3 linked regions of the Homo sapiens genome follow. The protein of the gene in region 3 purifies or fractionates together with the protein of the main gene of each other region. This does not show direct contact. Each region holds a gene or a part of one and is shown on either strand. Other genes may lie near its edges.

What was found.
Region 1: the proteins of IQUB (region 3) and BTBD1 purify together in Homo sapiens (affinity purification with mass spectrometry; 2 studies listed by BioGRID and IntAct, with this or other methods). This does not show direct contact.
Region 2: the proteins of IQUB (region 3) and FAM83D purify together in Homo sapiens (co-immunoprecipitation; one large-scale study listed by IntAct). This does not show direct contact.

Annotation. Positions count from the first base shown.
Region 1 is NC_000015.10:83,039,615-83,043,269, forward strand, and holds part of BTBD1 (BTB/POZ domain-containing protein 1), read right to left. Parts: intron 2,312-3,655; coding exon 2,114-2,311; intron 1-2,113.
Region 2 is NC_000020.11:38,929,414-38,933,068, reverse strand, and holds part of FAM83D (protein FAM83D), read right to left. Parts: intron 1-3,655.
Region 3 is NC_000007.14:123,454,545-123,458,199, forward strand, and holds part of IQUB (IQ motif and ubiquitin-like domain-containing protein), read right to left. Parts: intron 3,023-3,655; coding exon 2,837-3,022; intron 2,733-2,836; coding exon of another isoform or gene 2,649-2,732; exon of another isoform or gene 1-2,648. UniProt on the Homo sapiens protein: Adapter protein that anchors the radial spoke 1 (RS1) complex to the A microtubule of outer doublet microtubules in axonemes. The triple radial spokes (RS1, RS2 and RS3) are required to modulate beating of the sperm flagellum.

The sequences.
Region 1 (3,655 bases), on a different chromosome or scaffold from region 3:
AATACAAAAATTAGCTAAGCTTGGTGGCGGGCGGGCGTATGTAGTCCCAGTTACTCAGGAGGCTGAGGTGGGAGAATTGCCTGAACCCAGGAGGTGGAAGTTGCAGTGAGCTAAGATTGTACCACTGTACTCCAGCCTGGGTGACAGAGTGAGGCTCTGTCTCAAAAAAAAAAAAAAAAACCACAAACAACCTCCCAAAAAAACCAAAAAACATAGAACTACCAGTCAACCCAGCAATCCCATTACTGGTTATATATCCAAAAGAAAAGAAAATGTTCCACCAAAAGACACATGCACTCATATGTTCATCACAGCAACGACACTGACTCAACCTGGGTGCCCATCAGTGGTAGACTGGGTAGAGAATGTGACACACACACACACACACACACACACACACACGGACACACACACACCACAGAATACTATAAAGCCATAAAAAAGAACAAAATCATGCCTTTCGCAGCAACATGGATGCAGCTAGAAGCCATTATCTTAAGTGAGTTAATGCAGAAACAGTAAACCAAATACCGTATGTTCTCACTTGTGGAAGCTAAACATTGGATACACATGGACATAAAGATGGAAACAATAAGCACTGAGGACTGTTAAAAAGGGGAAAAGAGGAAGGGACAGAAGGGGGAAAAGAGTTAAAAAACTAACTACTGGACACTATGCTCACTGCCTAAGTGATGCAATCAACTGTACCTCAAACTTCAGCATCACACAATATACACATGAAACAAATCTGCACGTTACCCCGAATTTAAAATAAAAGTTGAAATTATTTTTTAAAAAATCATGAGAGCTAGGCACAGTGGCTCATGCCTATAATCCCAGCACTTTGGGAGCCCGAGGTGGGCAGATCACCTGAGGTCAGGAGTTCAAGACCAGCTTGACAAATATGGTGAAACTCTGTCTCTACTAAAAATACAAAAATTAGTTTGTGGCGGTGCACGCCTGTAATCCCAGCTACTCAGGAGGCTGAGGTGTGAGAATCGCTTGAACCCAGGAGATGGACGTTGCGGTGAGCTGAGATCGCACGACCGCACTCCAGCCTGAGCAACAGAGGGAGACCCTGTCTCAAAAAAAAAAAAAAAAAAAAAACCATGAGACTTTTCTTTCTTTTGAATCAATCTGGCCGTGATTTAAAGGCAGATAATAGTCAATTATGACCTGGGTAATGAAAACAGGTCAGAAGTGGTCATGGAGACTCAAAACAGATCTGTCTGATTTTAATCAGAAGCATCGACCTTAAGAGTCAAACAGAGGCTGGGCGTGGTGGCTTACACCTGTAATCCCAGCACTTTGGGAGGCTTGAGCCCAGGAGTTCAAGACCAGCCCTGACAGGATGGTGAAATCCTGTCTCTATAAAAAAAATTAAAAAATTAGCTGAGCATGGTAGTGTGCACCTATAGTCCCTGCTATTTGGGAGGCTGAGGTGGGAGGATTGATTGAGCCTGGGAGGTGGAGGCTTCAGTGAAATGCGTTTGTGCCACGGCACTCCAGCCTGGGTAACAGAGGAAGACTCTGTCTCAAAAAAAGAAAAAAAAGAAAAAAAAAAAAAGCCAAAAAGATCTGTCATAACCTGGGGTAAGGCACTCAACCTCTCCCAACTTTACTTCTCTAACCTATACAATGTGGATAATATAATTTTGAAGGGCTTAAAATCATACACTCGCATATATGTTTGTCATGTGATTAGTACTGAATAAAAGCTTCTTTTCCTCTCTGGCGCAGGGAGACTGATAGAATTTTTTTTTTTTTTTGAGATGGAGTCTCGTGGAATCTCGCTCTGTCGCCCGGGCTGGAATGCAACGGCATGATCTCGGCTCACTGCAACCTCCGTCTCCTGGGTTCAAGCGATTCTCCTGCCTCAGCCTCCTGAGTAGCTGAGATTACAGGTGCCCACCACCATGCCTAATTTTTTGTACTTTTAGTAGAGACGGGGTTTTACCATGTTGACAAGGCTGGTGTCGAACTCCTGTCCTCAAGTGATCCACCTGCCTTGGCCTCTCGAAAGTGCTGGGATTATAGGTGTGAGCCACCAGGCCCAGCCCTGACAGACTATTAAAACAGTTTCAAATAGATTTTGGTGAATTTATACCCTTACCTGCTGCAAATTCCTCAATTGTCATCAGTGGGAACCGGATTAAGGAAAGTGCTTTTCCTAGAACTTTTTGTTTATTCCCAAAAGTCACAGGTAATTGTTGTCTCTGACATTCTGCTTCTGCCCAGCGTACAACAGCTCCAAAAAGTCGACTTTCTCGAATACTGAGTGTGTCTCTCTCTAAAACTGCACAGAGTGTATCTATAGGCAAAATACAAAATAAACCCAATTAGAAATATTTTAGCTCTCTAACCAAGCAATACCAACAGACACACTTATATTAAGTTTTCAGATCTCAACAAAAAATAGGTTAGACACTTAAAACTACAGACTTTATACTTTAAAATACTAAATAATTAAAGGACTTAAACTCCAAAGTGTTCCATAAAAATCAGTTTAACAATCAATTTATTACTTACCATACATGCAATATTAAGATACAGTACTCTCCTTATATATTTATGCCATTTATCAAGTAAACTCAACTATCCAGAATAAGATTAACAAGCCACAGAAAAAGGTTCCAATTACATAAATTCTTAAAGTCTACAGATTATAATTCATTCGTTCATTCAGTAAATATTTATTATTAAGCACTACGTGCCAGGTACTATTAGGCAATTTTATATATATATATATATATATATATATATGTATGTATATATTTTGGATATAGAGTCATAGAGTCTCATTCTGTTGCTCAGGCTGGAGTGCAGAGGCACAATCTCGGCTCAATGCAACCTCTGCCTCCTAGGTTCAAGCAATTCTCCTGCCTCAGCCTCCTGGGTAGCTTGGATTACTGGCACGGGCCACCACACCTGGCTAATTTTTATATTTTTAGTAGAGACAGGGTTTCACCATGTTGGCCAGCCTGGTCTCAAACTTCCGACCTGAAGTGATCTGCCTGCCTCGGCCTTCCAAAGTGCTGGGATTACAGGCGTGAGCCACCGCGCCCAGCCAGCACTGATATATCACTGAACAAAAAGTTAAAAATTCCTGCCCTCATGGAGCTTACATTCTAATGAGGAGAAACAGATTAAATAAACACAAGTAAATTCGAGTATCTTAGATGATATACATGGGCAAATATGTCAGGTTAAGGAGAATCAGAAATGCAGTTTAAAATAGGAAGGGGCCAGGCATGGTGACCCATGCCAGTAGTCCCAGCAATTTAAGAGGCTGAGACAGGAGCATGGCTTGAGCCCAGGAGTTTCAGGCCAGCCTGGGCAATATAGTGAGACCCCATCTCTACAAAAAAGTTTTTAAAAATTAGCCAGGCATGGTGGCATGCACTTGTAGTCTCAGCTACTCAGGAGGCTGAGACAGCAGGATCACTCGAGCCTGGGAGGTTGCAGGCTGCAGTGAGCCATGATCATGCCATTGTACTCCAGCCCAGGCAACAGAGTGAGACTGTGCCAAAAAATAATAAAATAAAATAAAATCGGGTGGTTTAGGCAGGCTTCACTTATGCCAAGACATGAAGGAAGTGGGGGAGTAAGCCAAATAGATACCTAGAGGAATAGTATTCCAGGACTAAAAGTACAA
Region 2 (3,655 bases), on a different chromosome or scaffold from region 3:
AACTGATCACACCACACAGGCTCTACTGTAATGCAGAGGAAAGTTGTGCAAGAACAGGAAAGCCTTCATTCAGATACATCCAAGTAAATGCCAGGGGCCCCCAACAGATTCCTAAGCTGCTACTCCTCCTGGCAGGGCTCTCTGGGAACGCAATGATCCCCACTACTAACGCTCAGGTTATCAAGAGGATGCCCGAGGGTGAGGTCATAGCAAAAGTGGCCTCTTTGGAACAAAAGAGAATAGGCACTGGTAAGAAACGTGACTCTGAGGAATTGGAACCTCGTGGTGGTACCAGCTTTGCCTCTGAACTCTCATTCAACAAACCAGGAATAGCCGGACAGCCAATTCATAAGCACATTGCCAAAATGAGGCTATGTAGCCCTTCCAGGCAGGCGGCCACAGCCCAGCCAAATCCCAGTTCACACAGCAACAGAGGCAAAAAGCTGAATGCGTCATCAACAGATACAGTGGTGGAGGGGTGGATCTACAGCAAGTATGTAGGGAAAATATCCTGTATAATTCAAGATTATCCAAAAACTTGCTTAGGAAACAAACATATGGGTTCTCAAAAGGTTCAAAACAGTATTTCCTCCAATTTTGGTGAAGCTCGCCTGAGCACCTGGTAAGCAGCCAGCTTGTATTCAAGCCATGCTATACGTAATTGTGTTTTTATTTATTTTTTAGAAACAGGGTCTTGCCCTGTCACCCAAGCTGGAGTGCACTGGCATGATCATAGCTTACTACAGCCTCCAACTCCTGGGCTCAAGTAATCCTCCTGCCTCAGCCTGCTGAGTAGCTGGAACTACAGGCACATGCCACCACACCCGGCTAATTTTTTAACTTTTTGTAGAGATGGGATCTCGCTATGTTGCCCAGGCTGGTCTCAAACTCCTGGCCTCAAGGAATCCTCCAGCCTTGACCTCCCAAAACACTGGGATTACAGGCATGAGCCACCGCGCATGGCCAAACCATTTGTTTTTAAACACTGTACCTCATTCAGTGTGGCAGAATGCCCACACTTTGAAAGGTATATAGAAACAAGAGTCAAGGAAGGGGCTGGCAGATTCACAAACCCCAGGCACAGCCACCCAGGGACAAATACTTGCTGAGTGGAAAGGCAGACAGAATCACCTGAACTACTTTTCTTCCTATCTACCGCTCCCTTCCCCCTGCCCTTTATTTCTCCTCAAAGCATGTAGCTGAATGAGCAAAGGTGCACATAATAGGCCCCTACAGTATTTACTGAGCATCTTTTATGTATCAGACACACTGAGTGATTCTGTGTGGTCAGAGAGCTGCTGGATAAAACCTATCCCAGAACCAGCGCTTCAGGCTGCAAAGCCAGGATTAGGCCCTACCATTTACCAAGTAACCCTGGCTTCCTGTGCCTATACTCTGGTCAAGGAGCCTCGTATCCTGGCTCCTTCCAGAGACATTCCTGAAGATGCAGGGTGGTCCTCAGACCACCTCAGTGAAGGCAGATAAAGCTGCATGGAGCGAACACTGAGGTTCGACCGTGCTCTACTGCAGCCTGGCCCCAACCTCTGGGGTTAAGTGGGACCCTTCATGTGGCATTCAAAGTTCCTTCATTCACCCACCAAAAGATTCTCACAGATCCCTCTGCTCCAGGTACCAGAAACATCTATCTGGCTCTATCTTTCCCAGGGAGAGGAAAACACACTCTAGTTTACAAAACCTAAACTCAGAGACCTATGTTCTCCTGGCATCATGAACCACCTTCCCCACTTGATGGGTTGAGGAGGTTCTCTGCCAGCCTTAATGCCTCCTACTCTAAAAACTGACCACCTCGTTTTCTTCCTGAAAAGGACAGGTCTAGTCATTGTCATTTTCCTGTTTATAGAATACGCAACATGGAAATTAAAAAGTCCCAATCTTCAACTGTTACAAACCTTCAGCCTGTTGAAAACTACCAAAGCTCCAATCCTTCCTCATGGCAGGGAGGCTGTATGCAGCAGGGATTAGGAGTGTGGGCTTCAGTGGCCGGGCACAGCGGCTCACGCCTGTAATCCCAGCACTTTGGGAGGCCAAGGCAGGTGAATCACTTGAGCCCAGGAGTTCAACACCAGCCTGGGCAACATGGCGAAACCCATCTCTACTAAAAACACAAAAATTGGCCGGGCGCAGTGGCTCACGCCTGTAATCCCAGCATTTTGGGAGGCTGAGGCAGGCAGATCGCGAGGTCAGGAGATCAAGACCAGCCTGGCCAACATGGCGAAACCCCATCTCTACTAAAAATACAAAAATTAGTGGAGGGTGCCTGTAATCCCAGCTACTTGGGAGGCTGAGGTAGGAGAATCGCTTGAACCTGGGAGGCAGAGGTTACTGAGAGCTGAGACTGTGCCACTGCACTCCAGCCTGGGCCAAAAGAGCAACTCTGTCTCCAAAAAAAAAAAGAAAAAATTAGCTGGGCATGGTGGTGTGCTCCTGTAATCCCAGCTACTCGGGAGGCTGAGTCAGGAGAGTCACTTGAATCCAGGAGGTGGAGGTTGCAGTGAGCTAAGATCATGCCACTGCACTCCAGCGTGGGTGACAGAGCAAGACTCTGTCTTAAAAAAAATAATAACAAACAACAAAAAAAAAACACTTGAGCTTCAGAGCTGGAACTAGACAGACTTGGGCTTGAGCCCAGCTCTGTCCCATGCTAACTGTGTGATCTCAGGCAAGTTACTTAACTTCTCTGTGCCTGGTCTTTTCTTAATTGTAGCCTCCTCCCAGTGTTGGGAGGGTTAAATGAGGTAATTCAGGTCAAGGGTTTAGCACAGAAACTGACCCATTCAAAGTGCTCAATCATATCACCATTAGGTACCTTTGCTATCAGAACACGGATGCAGAACAGCTTCTCATTTCATCCTGAAAGCAGCCTGAGACCTACACCTTCATGGTCCTCGCTGTCACAGGTACTAGATTTCAAAGGATGTGGTCAAGGTGACACAGCCACTCCCTTGTCCACAATGCATGCCCATAAATAGTAGTAGCTCTTAGCTAGCCACCAGATCTGCTGTCACCTCTCCCCACCTGAGCACAGGCTCCTGAACCCTCCACAGGGAGTGTGGTGGTTAACAGTGGTTCAGACATTCTGTGCCTCAATTTGAGTACAGGCTCCTTCATTCTCTAGCTGCATGACTTCGGGGCCACTTAACTTCTCTATGCCTCAGTTCTATCAGCTGTAAAATGAAGATGATAATCGCACCTTCCTTGGGATCACCTAGAACAGTGCCTGGCAAACAGAAAGCATTACTTTTTTTTTTTTTTTTTTTAAAGAGACAGGGTCTCCCCGTGTTGCCCAGGCTGGAGTGCAGTAGCCATTCACAGCGTAGTCATAGTGTACTACAGCCTCAAACTCCTGGGCTCAAATGATCCTCCTGCCTCAGCCTCCTGAGTAGCTGGGACTACAGGCACATGATACCATGGCCTGGCTTTTTTTTTTTTTTTTAAACAAAAGAGATTGTCTTTGGGACCTCAAATTCAGCACTGTCTCAAACCCAACTCATTTCAGCATCCCTTACCCCAGCTTCCTCTCCTACCACTAACCCGCTGTGGGGAATTTGGCTGCCCCCAAACATTCCAGGTCCTTAAACACTTGTGGGCCAGCCCCCATACCCTAGGTCTGGCAAGCCCCACCCAGCTCTGAGGT
Region 3 (3,655 bases):
CATGGAGATAGGGATGGGTGGACATCAAGAGACCTTTTTTCCCATTGAAATAAGGTCCATTCTCTTGAAATAGCCATGTGATGGTTTTAAACTATGTTCACAAATTCTTTGGGTGTACAAATAGTTCTAAGAATATTACAGAAAGGTCCCATATACCCCACACCCACATTTTCCTGAATGTGTCTCAATCTGGGTTTGTCCTGTGTTTTCTTCATTATTATTAGACTGAAGGGATGGGTTTTGGGGAGGAAGACCACAGGGGTGAAGTGCCCTTCTCCTCACATCATATCAAGGGTACACACCATCAGCATGACAGCACTGCTGCTGTTAATCTTGATTACCTGGCTGAGGTAGTGTTTGTCAAGTTTCTCTACTGTAAAGGTCCTCCCCTTCCATCCATAATATAGTCTTTGGAAAGGAGTTATTATGTACAGCCCACATTTAAAGGGTAGAGAGTTATTCTCCATCTCCTTAAGAGTGGAGAGTATCTACATAAATTATTTGGAATTCTACATGGGAGATTTGTCTATTTGCCTCCCTTTATTTATTCATTCAGTCGTTTTTTAAATTTTTTAAATTGATAATAATTGTACATATTTACGGGGTACATAGTGATGGGATGATACATATATCATGATCAGAGTAATTAGCATATTCATCTCAAACATTTATCATTTCTTTGTGCTGGGAACATTCGATATGCTGCGTCTAGCTATTTGAAACCATATATTGTAATTAACTATAGACAACCTACAGTGCCACAGAACAGTACTAGAACTCACTCCTCCCATCTAGCTATAATTTTTGTATCCTTAACAAATCTCTCCCTGTTCCCTCAACCTCTGAGACCTTTACTTTCTACATTACATTTTTTATTCTGTTCAGATTCTAAGCCAATAATATATTGCTTTAAAATTAAAAATAAAATGCATCAAAAATTTTTAAAGTGCTTTCATAGTTACTACCTAAGTTTATTCATGCCAAAAAAAACTATGCAGAAAGCTTTAAATAATGGCCTACTCAAAGCTTCCCTATGATGAGATACCATTATCTCTTTTTTATAGACGAGAAAGCTGGGTCATTGAGACATTCACAAATTTGTCCAATTTCTCCCAGCTCATGAATGGTAAAGCTAGAATTCAGAGCCAGAGCTGCTTTTATCCTCTTTACTGATTCCACTTATTTAGCTAATCTTTCTAAAAATTTATGAAGCAAAGAGGGAAGGTTTTAATGTAAAGTTGTCAGTGACAGAGATTTGAGTTAACTGGGTCAGGATTACTGATTTTAAGTCCATGATTGTTCCTACTTTGGCCAGTGTGCACACAAGGAGAGATCAATCTGCTCCACTTAAAGTTCACATTAACGAAAGTGTTTTTCCACGTTTCCTATACCTGTTTCATATTAACTTGCAAGTATTTTTTTAACTTCTTAAGAAAGCAAATATCTCTGAACATTAAGAAAATTCTGAAAATGCTCCATCTTTCTGCAAGATATAAACTACTCTTTAACTGGGCTGAAAGTTAATAGTTAAAAGATTGTATCAGCCCAAAACCATAAAAAAGGCAAATGTTTTTCCAGTTTGTCTGCTTGCAAATCTTGGTGCCCTTTACAGAAATTCGATAAGACTGGCATTCTAAATTAGAAATGCATGTGAATAGAACATTTAATTTGATACTGCAGTAATTTGATTAAATGCACAAAGGGAGTTGTGTGGATTAATTGAAGAAGCACTGGAATATCAGCTTTGGGAATGAACTTCAATCTCATCATGGGTCCTAGATGAAATGATATTGCTAGTATTGACTATGCTTCCTGTGATTAAATATTTATGAGGCAGCTTAGTTTACTAAATATAACATTTAATACAGCTTCAACTTATTGCTACCTTTTCTTTCAATCCCTAGAGTGAAATTTTTCTTAGCCTGGCTTCTTAAAACTAAAAAAATATTTAAAAACTAAAACTTTAGCTAGTTTCTTATCTTTATATTCATCACCCCTTGTTCCACTGAAAAAAAACAAACAGGGAATCACACTATTTTAAACGACTACTGCATTTTGTCATTTCTTTACTTTCCTTTAGCTGACACCTTGTGTGGAATTAAAGAATGCAGAGAATCAGTATTAACTCTCGGGATCCTGGACCTAGTGTAAATGGAGCTCTCTACGAACTCTTCAGGAGTCCCTCAACTTACCCATCAAAATGTTTTACAGATTGCATCATGTAAGTTACTAAAATTACAGTAAATGGCATTTAATGTTTACAGTGCTTGCTCCACTCCCAGCAAGTTGGAAGCAAATGAAAAATGGAGCATCAGAACTACACCCCATCAGTATGATTGCTATTTAGAGCACAAAATTATGAACAAAATTTGAGAGTTGGGTGTTTTTAAGCAGACTCATGATAATTAATCAAAGAAGGACAGATTCTGGGTTCCATAATACCTATCTGGTGGTAATGCACATTTATTCATTCAACAAATACTTATAAACTCCATTCTGTGACAGGCAGTATTGTAGGTATTAGAGAAATAGATGTAAATAAGCCAAACAAAATCACTGCCTTCATGGAATTTACCGTGGAATGTGCTTAAACTTACTATTAGGAGAGACTGGTATGATGTTTAGGACTTGTAATATGTTCAAATCTCTTATATATACCTTTTATTTAATCTGTGCCATATATGCCATCCATAAATTTTTTTGTTGTTAATCCATAAGTTCTGTTTCTTAATCTGATGGAAGTATTTAAGCATGGAATATATTAGAAGGCAGTCCAGTTATCGCTAATAATTCCAATGATTAAATTAACTTCCCAAATAAAATTCAACTTTCTTACCTCTTCAATACTTGTTAGCTTGAGATGAGCAGCTGCTTCATCTTTGGTAAGAAGAATGCAGTTCCAGGGGGACCACTCCAGGGATTTATTCCATCTGACCATGACCAGATCACTGAGATTGTCGCAAGCACTGAGGACTGACTGGGACGCCCAGATGTTCTCTGTCAGGTACTGAATGTCTTGTAGCTGCATGTCAAAGCAAGTTTTAAAAACAATGTAGTTTAAATTTGTTTAAGATTATTATATTACTTGAGCAAATAATTAAATTATAGAGTATTTTTAAGTGAATTATTATTCACTAGGTTTCAATGACACATAGCCCCTTATTTTTCACTAAACTTCTGTTCATTTTGCCTAAACTACATTATCAGTCTCACAGTTGCGTCCCCATCTCTAAACCAGAGTAAGCAGTATAAATTCATTTCAGTATGCTAATTTTACCTGAATATAATCTTAATAATACTATAATGTTACCATAATAAACATATGGTATTGAATGATCTTTAAAATTCATTAGTAAGTACCATCTTAATTTCAGGGCCATTGTAGGGACCTTTTAAAACCTTTTACTGCCATTTTACAAATGAGGAAGCTGAGATTTTTTTTTTTTAATATGGAACACTTCACAAGTTTGCATGTCATCCTTGTCCAAGGGCCATGCTAATCTTCTCTATATGGTTCCAATTTCAGTATATGGGCTGCTGAAGCAAACACAGGAAGTTGAGATTTAATAAAGATAAGTAATTCACTTAGTGTTAATTAAAAGACTTGGTTGTTTTAATCAAAAAGAGGGGTAATGAAATAGCTGTTTAAAACTTT